Homo sapiens: one gene and its partners. The protein of the gene in region 1 interacts with the protein of each later gene in a pairwise test. Each region holds a gene or a part of one and is shown in the gene's direction. Other genes may lie near its edges.

What was found. Proteins that work in one complex are often made in the same cells at the same time.
Region 2: the proteins of CCDC90B (region 1) and RGL2 interact in a two-hybrid assay, tested with the Homo sapiens proteins (one large-scale study listed by BioGRID and IntAct).
Region 3: the proteins of CCDC90B (region 1) and PCDHA4 interact in a two-hybrid assay, tested with the Homo sapiens proteins (one large-scale study listed by BioGRID and IntAct).

What each region holds. Positions count from the first base shown.
Region 1 is NC_000011.10:83,276,368-83,279,867, reverse strand, and holds part of CCDC90B (coiled-coil domain-containing protein 90B, mitochondrial isoform 1 precursor), read left to right. Parts: intron 1-1,038; coding exon 1,039-1,142; intron 1,143-3,500.
Region 2 is NC_000006.12:33,296,143-33,300,279, reverse strand, and holds the start of RGL2 (ral guanine nucleotide dissociation stimulator-like 2), read left to right. Parts: upstream 1-1,337; 5' UTR 1,338-1,410; intron 1,411-1,628; 5' UTR 1,629-1,669; coding exon 1,670-1,825; intron 1,826-2,282; exon of another isoform or gene 2,283-2,387; coding exon of another isoform or gene 2,388-2,482; intron 2,483-2,936; coding exon of another isoform or gene 2,937-3,066; intron 3,067-3,164; coding exon 3,165-3,248; intron 3,249-3,503; coding exon 3,504-3,682; intron 3,683-3,815; coding exon 3,816-3,866; intron 3,867-3,954; coding exon 3,955-4,137. UniProt on the Homo sapiens protein: Probable guanine nucleotide exchange factor. Putative effector of Ras and/or Rap. Associates with the GTP-bound form of Rap 1A and H-Ras in vitro.
Region 3 is NC_000005.10:140,981,568-140,985,067, forward strand, and holds part of PCDHA4 (protocadherin alpha-4 isoform 1 precursor), read left to right. Parts: intron 1-907; coding exon 908-996; intron 997-3,500. Other genes in the region: PCDHA1 (protocadherin alpha-1 isoform 1 precursor), read left to right, coding at 908-996; PCDHA2 (protocadherin alpha-2 isoform 1 precursor), read left to right, coding at 908-996; PCDHA3 (protocadherin alpha-3 isoform 1 precursor), read left to right, coding at 908-996; PCDHA5 (protocadherin alpha-5 isoform 1 precursor), read left to right, coding at 908-996; PCDHA6 (protocadherin alpha-6 isoform 1 precursor), read left to right, coding at 908-996; PCDHA7 (protocadherin alpha-7 isoform 1 precursor), read left to right, coding at 908-996; PCDHA8 (protocadherin alpha-8 isoform 1 precursor), read left to right, coding at 908-996; PCDHA9 (protocadherin alpha-9 isoform 1 precursor), read left to right, coding at 908-996; PCDHA10 (protocadherin alpha-10 isoform 1 precursor), read left to right, coding at 908-996; PCDHA11 (protocadherin alpha-11 isoform 1 precursor), read left to right, coding at 908-996; and 4 more. UniProt on the Homo sapiens protein: Calcium-dependent cell-adhesion protein involved in cells self-recognition and non-self discrimination. Thereby, it is involved in the establishment and maintenance of specific neuronal connections in the brain.

The sequences.
Region 1 (3,500 bases):
CTAAAGTCCGTGTGGAAGTACAAATGTTTGAGATTAAAAAATAAAAAAAAAGCACAAAAAATTACCTGATATCAAAACAGTAATTTAAATTATGTGATATTAAAGGAATAGACTAATAGAACAAAATGGTATTAAGAGACACAGACATGAATTTAATATGTGATGAAGGCATTACAAATTAGGGAAAGGAAGGACTATTTAATAAATGAGACATAATAAGTGACTAGCCACTGGGAAAAAATATATTAGATCCCCTTATTGAAAACTAAATTTCAGATAGATGAAAAGCTAAATGTAAAAGAAGAACAAGCAGTTTTACAGAAAAAGGTGGGCAAATGCTATAAACAAGCAGAACACAGAAAAATAAATATAAATAACAAAAAGTATATGTAATGCTTAACCTCTCTACAAACCAAGGAAATGCAAATTTAAGTAACATTAAAATAACAATGCAATACAATTTTTTATGCCAATTACACACTCAAAAAAAAAGTCATATCCAGTGTTAATGTAGATGTGGGGAGATACAGAATGAGAATTAAAATTTTAGAGTTTGTTTTTTTGTTTGTTTTTTTTTTGTTTTTTTTGAGACAGAGTCTCGCTCTGTTGCCCAGGCTGGAGTAAAGTGGCGCGATCTCGGCTTACTGCAAGCTCTGCCTCCCAGGTTCACACCATTCTCCTGCCTCAGCCTCCCGAGTAGCTGGGACTACGGGCGCCCGCCACCACGCCTGGCTATTTTTGTATATTTAGTACAGATGGGGTTTCACCGTGTTAGCCAGCATGGTCTCAATCTCCTGACCTTGTGATCTGCCCACCTCGGCCTCCCAAAGTGCTGGGATTACAGGCGTGAGCCACCATGCCCGGCCTAAAGTTGTAGAGTTCTTTTAGAGAGTAATTTAGTATTATCTGTCAATTTTTTAATTGTAACCATTATTTAAAAGAGTATAACAATTTAAATGTTGAGGAGTTACTCTTGCTGTCTATTTTGATAAGGATATACACTTTAAAAAAAATAAAATACCTATTTGCTGCCTACAGGATTTGACAAAACACAAGCAGAAACAATTGTATCAGCGTTAACTGCTTTATCAAATGTCAGCCTGGATACTATCTATAAAGAGATGGTCACTCAAGCTCAACAGGTAATACACTGATTACTATCACTTCTGATACTTTCATTAGACAATCATTTCATAACTATGTCTCTGTCTACCTACTGACCTTCCAAACATGCTTATATCTTCCTTGTTCTCTCTAAAGGGACCACAAAAAAAAACATTGAATAAAGTCAGTATTTAGAGAGACTGAATAGTTAGAATAGTTGTAATAATATTGTGGTAACAGAGAATGGTATTTTGCCAAATCTTTGATGGGATGAGATCATTATATTGTGTTATTCATGAGTGGTGGTAGATTGTTTGTGAAACAACTTTTTCCCTCTAGAAAGCTCACCACAGAAGAGCTAATCTTTCTATATATTCAGTATATTTTATTGCTGCTATACATACACATTGGTTAATTTTCACAGACATAGCTGGAAAGGACTTAGTTGGCTGGGAGGGACTTTATAAATTCCCTGGCTAAGACGCCTTAATTTAACTGAATATAAAAATCCTTAAAGTCAAACATAAGAATTTAACATGTAAGTGGCACAATGCTATGTACTTTTCGTATATTATTTAATCTCTAATAACCTTGAAAAGTAAGCAGAATTCTATTTGGCCACTGAAGACAGGCTCAGAGAAATTGAGTAGTTTGCAAGAGTTTTCACTGTGGTGGTATGGACAAAAAGCAATAATTTTATATAAAGGACTGAATAAACTAAATGAACTTAACTGGAATAATAATTCATTTCTGTCAGTCATGAAATAATGTATTATGTTTAGGAATCTGTTTTCTTCCTATGGTTATATTTTTTTCATTTTAATTTTTCAAATTTAGGCTTCCTTCCTCAGATAAGTATTTTACAGCACAGAGAAAAATCAGGATTTCTTATATAAAATTAGAATATTTTGCATAAAATTTCATTAAAGGGTCATGGTAGATCAAAAGATCTTACAGATTTCTACTATGGCCAGGTGCCGTGGGTCACACCTGTAATCCCATTACTTTGGGAGGCTGAGGTACACAGATCACTTGAGGTCAGGAGTTCAAGACTAGCCTGGCCAATAAGGTGAAACACTGTCTCTACTTGAAAAAACAAAAAAAAAAACAAAAATTAGCCGGGCATGGTGGTGGGCACCTGTAATCCCAGCTCCTCGGGAGGCTGAGGCAGGAGAATCGCTTGAACTGGGGAGGTGGAGGTTGCAATGAGCCAACATTGCACCACTGCGCTCCAGCCTGGGTGACAGAGACTCCATCTCAAAAAAAGAAAAAAACAAAAATTAAAACTGTAATCTCCAATTATAGTAGACAAATGTCCAATTAATTAGACATTTAAAATTGAAACATTCAATCCCTACATTTAACTTACCTTTAAGTTTGTACATGCATTTTTAGGATCATAACAGACTACTAAATCCACTAAAGAAAAAGCCAAACATCTAATTAGTTACTCCTAAGCTCCGAGCTGTCCTGAAAGAGCTATATGGAGCTACTGATACTTTTAATAAAGTAATTTTGTCTTAAATTTTTAAGTTTACCTATAATATAGGGAGTGAAATAAAGCTGTGATTTGAGGAATATTTGTGCTGCCAGGACCATTTAATCCTATATACAAGAGGTAGGATTGAGTATAGAAATATCACTATTAAACTTTTGGCTTTTTTATTACTGCTGTCTGAAGTTAAATAATCCTGTTCTGTTCTTGAACCTAATTCAATTGCTGACCCCACCTCTAGTATAGAATAAGGCACAGAGATGTCATGAAGGGTGAAGCTAAGGCTCAGGGTCATAGGCCATTAAGCTGCATACTTGATCACTTCAGAAAGGGCCATATGAAAACAAGTCAGCTAGCAGGATGAGGGGGAAAAAATAAAATAATAAAGTCTTATTCTGAAAATTTGATTATATTGTGATTTTGATTAAAATCTGAATATTCTCTGATGGCTCCATAGTAGTTTAAAAAAATCACACTTTTAATAGATTTAGCTACTTAACAATGGATTATGTGTACATTTAAAGTTGTTACAGATGGACACCTGTGCAGTTTTGTAGGCTTTTTGAGTCTGTATTTAAAGGAAGAATGAGGTAAAAAGAGGCTCTTAAGAGCCACATTAAGGCTGGTGTGGTGGCTCACGCCTGTAATCCCAGCACTTCAGGAGGCTGAGGTGAGCAGATCACTTGAGGTCAGAAGTTCGAGACCAGCCTGGCCAACGTGGCAAAACCCTGTCTCTACTAAAAATACAAAAAAATTAGCCAGGCATGATGGTGGGTGCATGTGGTCCCAGCTACTCAGGAGGCTGAGGCACGAGAATCACTCGAACCCAGGAAGTGGAGGCTGCAGTGAGACAAGATTGCGCCACTGCATTCCAGCCTGAGTGACAGAGCAAGGCTCTGTC
Region 2 (4,137 bases), on another chromosome or scaffold:
GAACCCGTACTCTAGGGCCAAATCCATTCTTCTTGCCCTGGCTCACTTGTCCCCCCCACCGCCCCGCGCTGGAGCCACTGCCTAGTTCTTCAGCCCTAGATGGTGCTCGCCAGACCTCCTCTCAATGCTCATCACACACAGGGCTATTCCTTTCCTCCAATGAACCAAACGCCTCCCGCCCACCTCCAGGTCCCAGTCCTCTGTTCCCTTTGCCTGGTCCACCCTTGCCCTCCCTGGGTCGCAGACGAGGTCGGCCTCGTCATTCCCCGCAGACCGCCGCGCGTCCCTCTTGTGCGGTTCACCACAGTTGTATTTAAGTGATCGTGTGAGTCGTCGTTAAATGCCTGTCTCCCCGCGGATCATGGGCTCCTCGAGGACAGGGACTGGCCTGTCTGTCCACTGCTGTAACCCCGCGCCGGCATAGGGACCTAAGGCCCACTGGAGGGCGCTCATCAAGTAGCTGCTGGATGTTGACGAAGGAAGCGGCGGCGCAGCTCAGGGATCTCCGAGTCAGGACGGTCGGCCAGACCCACGGGGTAACGGGTCTAATCGTGTAGGAATAAAGCTGTATTCCAGTGCTTCCAAACGGTTCTCTCATTCCAACCCCTTTCCAAGCTCAATGAATATTCCAATCACCTCTGGTCCCTTCCAGTGACCCTGAACCGCTCAGAGAACGCCCCGTCGACACCGTTCGGGGCGGGCGCCACTACTGGCGCATGAGATGCGCTCAAGCAGAGGGTACTCCACCAGCGAGGATACACCGAGCCGACGGGGATCTCGGTCTCGGCGCCGGAAGCCTCTGAGAGCCGAATCTGGAACCGGATGTGGCTGCTTCCTGCCCCGCCCCCTGCCGAGGGGGCGGGAATCGAGGGCCCTTCGGAAAACCCGGCCGGGATTTCGGTCAGCTACATTCGTGGGTTGTGGTAGGGAGGGTAATCCCGTGGGGATGGAGTGACCGGCTCTCTCTCCGCCTGAAACGCTTCCCGCGGGAGTTTTAGCCGTGTTATTGTTGGGGAAGGGAATGTCAAATTCTGCTCCTGCCTTCCCCCAGGGGCTGGAGACTGGAATCTTTATTCCAGTTCATTGCGGGTCGACGTGGTCTCCAGAATCCCCGAGTGTAGAGGCGGAGGACAGTGGAGCTGGGGACTCGGGCGCCTGGGTCCTGGTCCCTGAGCGTCCAGCGCTCCCCTAGTCCGCGGCCCTGGCTCCTGTCCTCACTTCCTTCCCCTTTTGGCTCCTGCTCTCGGAGCGGGCGGACGCGGGGGGGAGCGGAAAGGGCGGGAGGGCCCAGGAGCCCGGCGGGGGGGTTCAAGGGGGTACGGAAAAGCCGGGGAGGGGACTCGGTCCGGGGCCGGAGACCGACGGCAACAGCGGCTCAGGACCCACGCTGCCCCCACCCCTCCCGAGCAGGTCAGAGCCTGAGCACCCTGCGCGTCCCCGTACTCGTGACCTCCTCCTTCCCCAACAGCACCAAGGGCCCCCCTATTCCACCCTTCTGTTGCCCCCTCCCCCAACCTTCCTGCAGAACTCCCTTCCGGTCTTCTTGACACCCACCCACGTCCCTTCCCTGCCCGGTTCCCCCGCGCCTGCCTGACTCTCCACCCCCACCCCACCCCGTCTCTCCCCAGGCGCCCCCATGGCCCGACCCCGCTGATTCCTTCACTCGGCCATGCTCCCGCGGCCCCTGCGGCTGCTTTTGGACACGAGCCCCCCCGGGGGAGTCGTACTGAGCAGCTTCCGAAGCCGGGACCCCGAAGAGGGTGGGGGCCCAGGTGGCCTGGTCGTGGGCGGGGGGCAGGAGGAAGAGGAGGAGGAAGAAGAAGAGGTGAGACGCGGGTGGTGGGAGGTAGGGGGCGTATGTATTTCTGAAGTCTCCACTTTTCTCTTGTCTCTGGGTCCCTACATCTCCTCCTCCTTGCCTCAGTTATTCTCGCGCCTCCCTGGGTGTCGGCCCGTTTCTCTGCTGCGGGGAGTCCTGGCGTCTCCGTGGTTCTCTGTCAGTGTGACTCAGGACCTGCCCGCAGGAACCTGCCCTGTTCCTGCCTGGAACTTCTGGCTGGCTGTCCTGTCCCTGCGGGTCTTTGGCCCTCCACCTCTGCCTGCCTGAGTGTGCCTACCTCTCTGAGCAGTCGTGTCTTGGTCCCTGTCTCCCTCCTTGTTTTTGTTTGGCGGGGAGGGGTTTGTTTCCACAGTAACCAGCTCCTCTGACTCTGGGATTGGGGAGGGAACCCTCAGATTTCGTGACCCCTCCTTCCCTCTCTCCCCCTTCCCCCCGCCCCCCCGCCCCGCCCCGGTCCTGGGTAGAGGCCGGGAAGCCACGGTTCTGGGACCTGGAGGAAAGATCCTAGGGTGGGTAGAGAGTGGTCATCTGTTTTCATTAGGGATTAATGGTGGTGGCCAGGAGCAGGATTTCGGGCCTCAGGAGGGGCCAGAATTTGGATTTGGGGCCCCGAGGCCCTAAACTCCTAGGTCCAGATCCTAGGTGAGGGCAGGTTGACTGGCAGGGCTGGTTTTTCGGGATCGGTCGGGGGAGGGGCTGGGGCCACGTGACTCTCTGAGTCTACCGCCCCCAACCCCCTATCATCCCACTTCCCCTTTTCCTTCCTGTACTGGGATTGGAGCTGCTACCTTCGGGGGTCCCTTAGGGCTGAGATAGTGGAGGCGCTACCCGAGGGACCAGGGTGAAAGGGGTCCTGAAAAAGACTAATTCTCTGGGCTGGTATAGTCCTTGGCCGGGAGGGGCGGGGCATGCGGCAGTGCCTGGACTGAGGTTTCAGCTACCCCTAGTCGCTGCCTCTGGCTTGCTGCCTCTCGCTTCCCTCTCCTGCCCTTTGTACCCTGCTTCTCTGTCGTGTGTGGGTTCAGCTCTGGGGAGAAGGGGCTTTGGGGGTCTCCAGGATCAGAATTCCTGTACTCCATCCACGCCTCCACTGCAGCCCCTTCGACTCCACCGGGGCCCTGAGGCGGCTGGGGTGGGGCTGTCTGGGCCCCAGTGGGGGAGACCTGGGGTCACCAGCTCCCCCAACCCTTCCTCGCACTCGCTGGTACTATGCCCTGCCACCACAGGTGAGGGGTACAGAGGGAGGAGCAGGGCCTGGGGTGAAGGCTGAGGGCAATGGGGGGTGGTGTGGAACTGTCTGACTTCCCCTTCCTTGCTCCTCCAGGCCCCTGTGTCCGTCTGGGATGAGGAGGAGGATGGTGCCGTGTTTACCGTCACAAGCCGCCAATATCGACCTCTTGATCCCTTGGTGAGATCATGACTTTAGCTTCTCACCTCTGACTCTTCATTCCCAGTTTTCCTTCCTCTGGCTGACTTTCTGGCCAGAGTGCTAGGTTGGAGTTCTGGAGTCCTGGACTCTGCTGTGTGACATAGGCCAAGACTCTTGCCCTCTCTGAATATCAGAAAAATGAGTCTGGAACATCTCCTGGGTCTGGGATTGTCCTCAGAAATCTAGGTGCAGAGTGGGAGAAAGGGTTAGCGATCATCTCTCTGTGTTCTCCAGGTCCCTATGCCTCCCCCACGTTCCTCCCGACGGCTCCGAGCTGGCACTCTGGAGGCCCTGGTCAGACACCTACTGGATACCCGGACATCAGGGACTGATGTGAGCTTCATGTCAGCCTTCCTGGCTACCCACCGGGCCTTCACCTCCACGCCTGCCTTGCTAGGGCTTATGGCTGACAGGTCAGAGTCATAAGGGACGCAGGGTAGTGGAGTATCTGCCCGGATTTCCTAAAGCCGCAACATCCCACCAAAATAGTCAAAGCCACTGAGGGTTTGGGAAAAATGGACAGATAGATCCTCTTCTCCCCCTCAGGCTGGAAGCCCTTGAATCTCATCCTACCGACGAACTAGAGAGGACAACAGAGTGAGTGACCCCTGGTTCTTAATCTCACAGTCCCCTCTGCCCAGGCTGCAGCTTTACCTCTCACCCTTGGCTGATTCCCTTCTCCCAGGGTAGCCATCTCTGTACTGTCAACCTGGCTGGCCTCTCACCCTGAGGATTTTGGCTCTGAGGCCAAGGGTCAGCTTGACCGGCTTGAGAGCTTCTTACTTCAGACAGGGTATGCAGCAGGGAAGGGTGTTGGGGGGGGCAGCGCTGACCTCATCCGCAATCTCCGGTCCCGGGTGGACCCCCA
Region 3 (3,500 bases), on another chromosome or scaffold:
TGTCTCAAAAATAAATAAAATAAAACAAAATGTTCCTCTAATTTTGATGAGGGTTTTCTTGGACATTTTCTCTTAGGATCCCACTTATTTCTTCCTTCCTTTCTTCCTTCCTCCCTTCCATCATTCATTCATTCATTCATTCATTCATCCAACAAATATTTGAGAGATTAATATGAGTTAGTATTAGACATACATAAATGAATACTGCACCATGTTCTCTTTTCCCTTGAACAGTTTATGTTCTATCTCTGCTTGCCTCTAAAGGTCTCCCAGTTTGTATCTCACTCCCAGCAATGTTTTATGCTGAATTAATCTCTTCTGAGCGGGGATCTGTGAGTGGTGGTGATCAAGTTTCTCTAGTCTCAGGAAATATAGGGTGGGTCATCTATGCATAAAAGATATAGAAAGAGTAAAATAGAAAATAAGGTTAAGAATTAATTAGATAGCCAAATTGGAACAATACTCCAATTATCAGAAAATATTTTAGTGTGTTTTCTTCTTTAGAGTAGAGAACCTAGGAACAAGAGAACCTGCAAGAGAGGCTTGGAACTTTTGAGAACAAGCCCTCCTCATCTGCTTCAGTATCGAGATGTTAAAATGGCTTAGTCCTCTGATGGGCTTCCTGTTAGATTTAGTGAGCGCCACATGGCGTTAATAAAAAACAGAATTGCCATAAAGATAGAACATGTGTGTTCCTGGAATAGTATAGCAGGCAATAAGTAAGTCAGCAATGCTTCTGCAGTTTATGCAGGGTGACTGCTCAGCAGTAATTGCTTCAGTTCAAGCATGAGCAGAATGTGTTAGCTGCAGCCCTGGCTTCATAGTTGTAAGCAATTTCTGAGGGTGGAAGAAGAGATGGGAAAGAATTTATGATCTAACCGTTATCTGGGTCTGTGTGTTTATTCAGCTCTGTGCACCTAGAGGAGGCTGGCATTCTACGGGCTGGTCCAGGAGGGCCTGATCAGCAGTGGCCAACAGTATCCAGTGCAACACCAGGTAAAGAGCTGGGGTCTCTCCATTCTTTCTTGGTTTCTGGAAAGTGATCAGATGACCTACTTTTGTAAGATCAGGAATGTTGATGGCTCTTTTTCTTTTATATTTTTGTTATTCCCTTTTTTCCATACATACATGATTTCCTTACATATATGATTATTTTGATTTTATACCTAATGCTCTTCAGGAGTTGAAAAAGGATAACAAGGAAAGTGTGTGTGCACGCATGTGTGCATGTGTGTGTGTGTGTATGAAGTTTTTGGGGTTTGTTTGTTTGTTTAAATCAGGTACCTTTCAAATGCTTAGGTCATCCAAGCCATGCAGAGAAGATCTGGTGGCCTTATGCACAGAGATGACACTGTTAACAAAGATCTTTTGGTTGAAGACTATGGAAACCCACCCAAAGTAGTAAGGAAAGAAAGAGAAAAAGAAGGAAAGAAAGAAAAAGGAAGGAAGGAAGGAAGATGGTTTCTCATGGAAGTGGAAAATTATCGGAACCAAGGCATTGTTTTGAGTTCAAGTCAAAGTCAATCTGCTTCTCTCTGCACATCAACAACATTCTGCAGACTGACTTTTAGTGCCTTGGCATGCATGTTGCCAAACATGACCGCCTCACAATTTCTTAGTTTAGAGGGATAATAGGGACTATTTCCTAATCCAAACTTTCAGGAAAGAGAACCTGCTAAGTTGTGTAAAAAACCTAATGGCTGGGTGAGTATAGGAAAATTGCTTAAACTCACATTTGCTTGGTATCCTTATTCTTGCCCTATCACTAAAGCAGGGTCATGTAATAGAAATATGGCTTTGGAGGCCCATCGCTGTGGCAGTTTTCAGAAAGGGAAGATTAAGTGTTGGTAGAGACCACAAATTGTGTCTACTCTAATCCTCTATTAATAGAACATCATGATGATAATAGTAGTTACTAATTATTAAGCCATAATATGCCTAGACACTGTGCCAAGTACATTGTATGTGTGGTCTCATTTATTCCTTAAGTCAAGCTTGCAAGGGATTTATTACATCTATTCTACATATGAGAAACTGGAGAGGCAGAGAGATTAAGAAATGTACCCAAGTTCACGTAGCTTGTAAGTGGCAGAGGGTAGGATTCAAACCCAGATGTGTTTAGTTTCAAATCCAAGTATATCTAGCACTTATATTCATAACATGGCTGGCTTGCAATAATCCATTCAAATTCAAATACATATCTACATACATAACAGATGACAGAATGTGTGTGTAAAAGGTTTTTTCCCAAAAATAATCAGATGCCTTTCAAATTATTAAGTAACATGCAGCTAAGGGCCCATTTTTACTGGCAACTTTAAGGGCATTCGTTGATTCTAATCAGCCAGGATTTGCTATTTATGGATGTTGCACAATTCAACTAAAAGTCACATTTGTCCAAAAAATATACGAGTTGAAGCAATTCATTAGAGAGCTAATATTGCCAGATTGCAAGGGGAAAAACATAAAATAGTTCATTGACAAATCTGTACCCTCAGTGCCAACGATGGAGTGAAGAAATGATGGAGGAGGAAGTGGTTTTAGACTGCCAAGTGTTGCAGGATGTGGAGGCATCTGGGAAGGTGAGAACTTCCCAAAGAAGCCACGTGAAATCATGACTTTCTACCTTGCCTTTATTTCAGAGTTTTTCTTGCTCTTATGGAGGCATTGTAGGTCGACCTGGTAAGCCACAAACTAACTTTGAATACATTCTCCCTCCCATTGGTGATGCTGGTTGGTGTGTATTCCTAGGCAAATGTGGAATAGGAACCATGTATTGATATTTCATACATCTGGCCAAGTCCCTCTTTCAGATTCAAAAAATGTTGAGAACCTATCTTTTTTACAGAGATAGAGAAGGGGATCTCCCTTGTTCCCTTTCTTACTGTCCCAGCCCCTCTTGTATAACCCATTTTATCCAGAACTGTGCCTGGCTGCTGATGCATGAGTCACAGTCTTCATGGACTGTGCTGGATAGAGCTTACATCTTCCAACTACTCCATGGCAACCTAATCATACTTTTCAATACATACCTCTGCATCAGTGGTGTAAAGTTAAAGGGATTCTCTGCCTTCTCCCTGTCCTTCTGGTACTTTTAGGTTTTTAGGACTCAATATATGTTCTGCACTGCTTGGAGGGAATATGGCATAAAGATTAAGATTATGATTTAGAGTCAGATTTGAGTTGAATTCTAATCCCAAGCTTACTTGCTGGGTGAGCATAGACAAACTGCCTGAATTCATATTTTCTTAATTACCCTTTCTGTAAATTGGGTGTAGTAATAATAATAACACCTATTTTATTGAGTTACCATGAGAACTAAAGGAGAAAAAAAGAACTGAGCATAGTGCTTGACATATAGTTAATAAATGTCTAATCTTTTTTTTTTGAGACAGAGTCTCGCTCTGTCCCCCAGGCTGGAGTCCAGTGGCACGATATCGGCTCACAGCAACCTCTGCCTCCTGGGTTCAAGTGATTCTCCTGCCTCAGCCTCCTGAGTA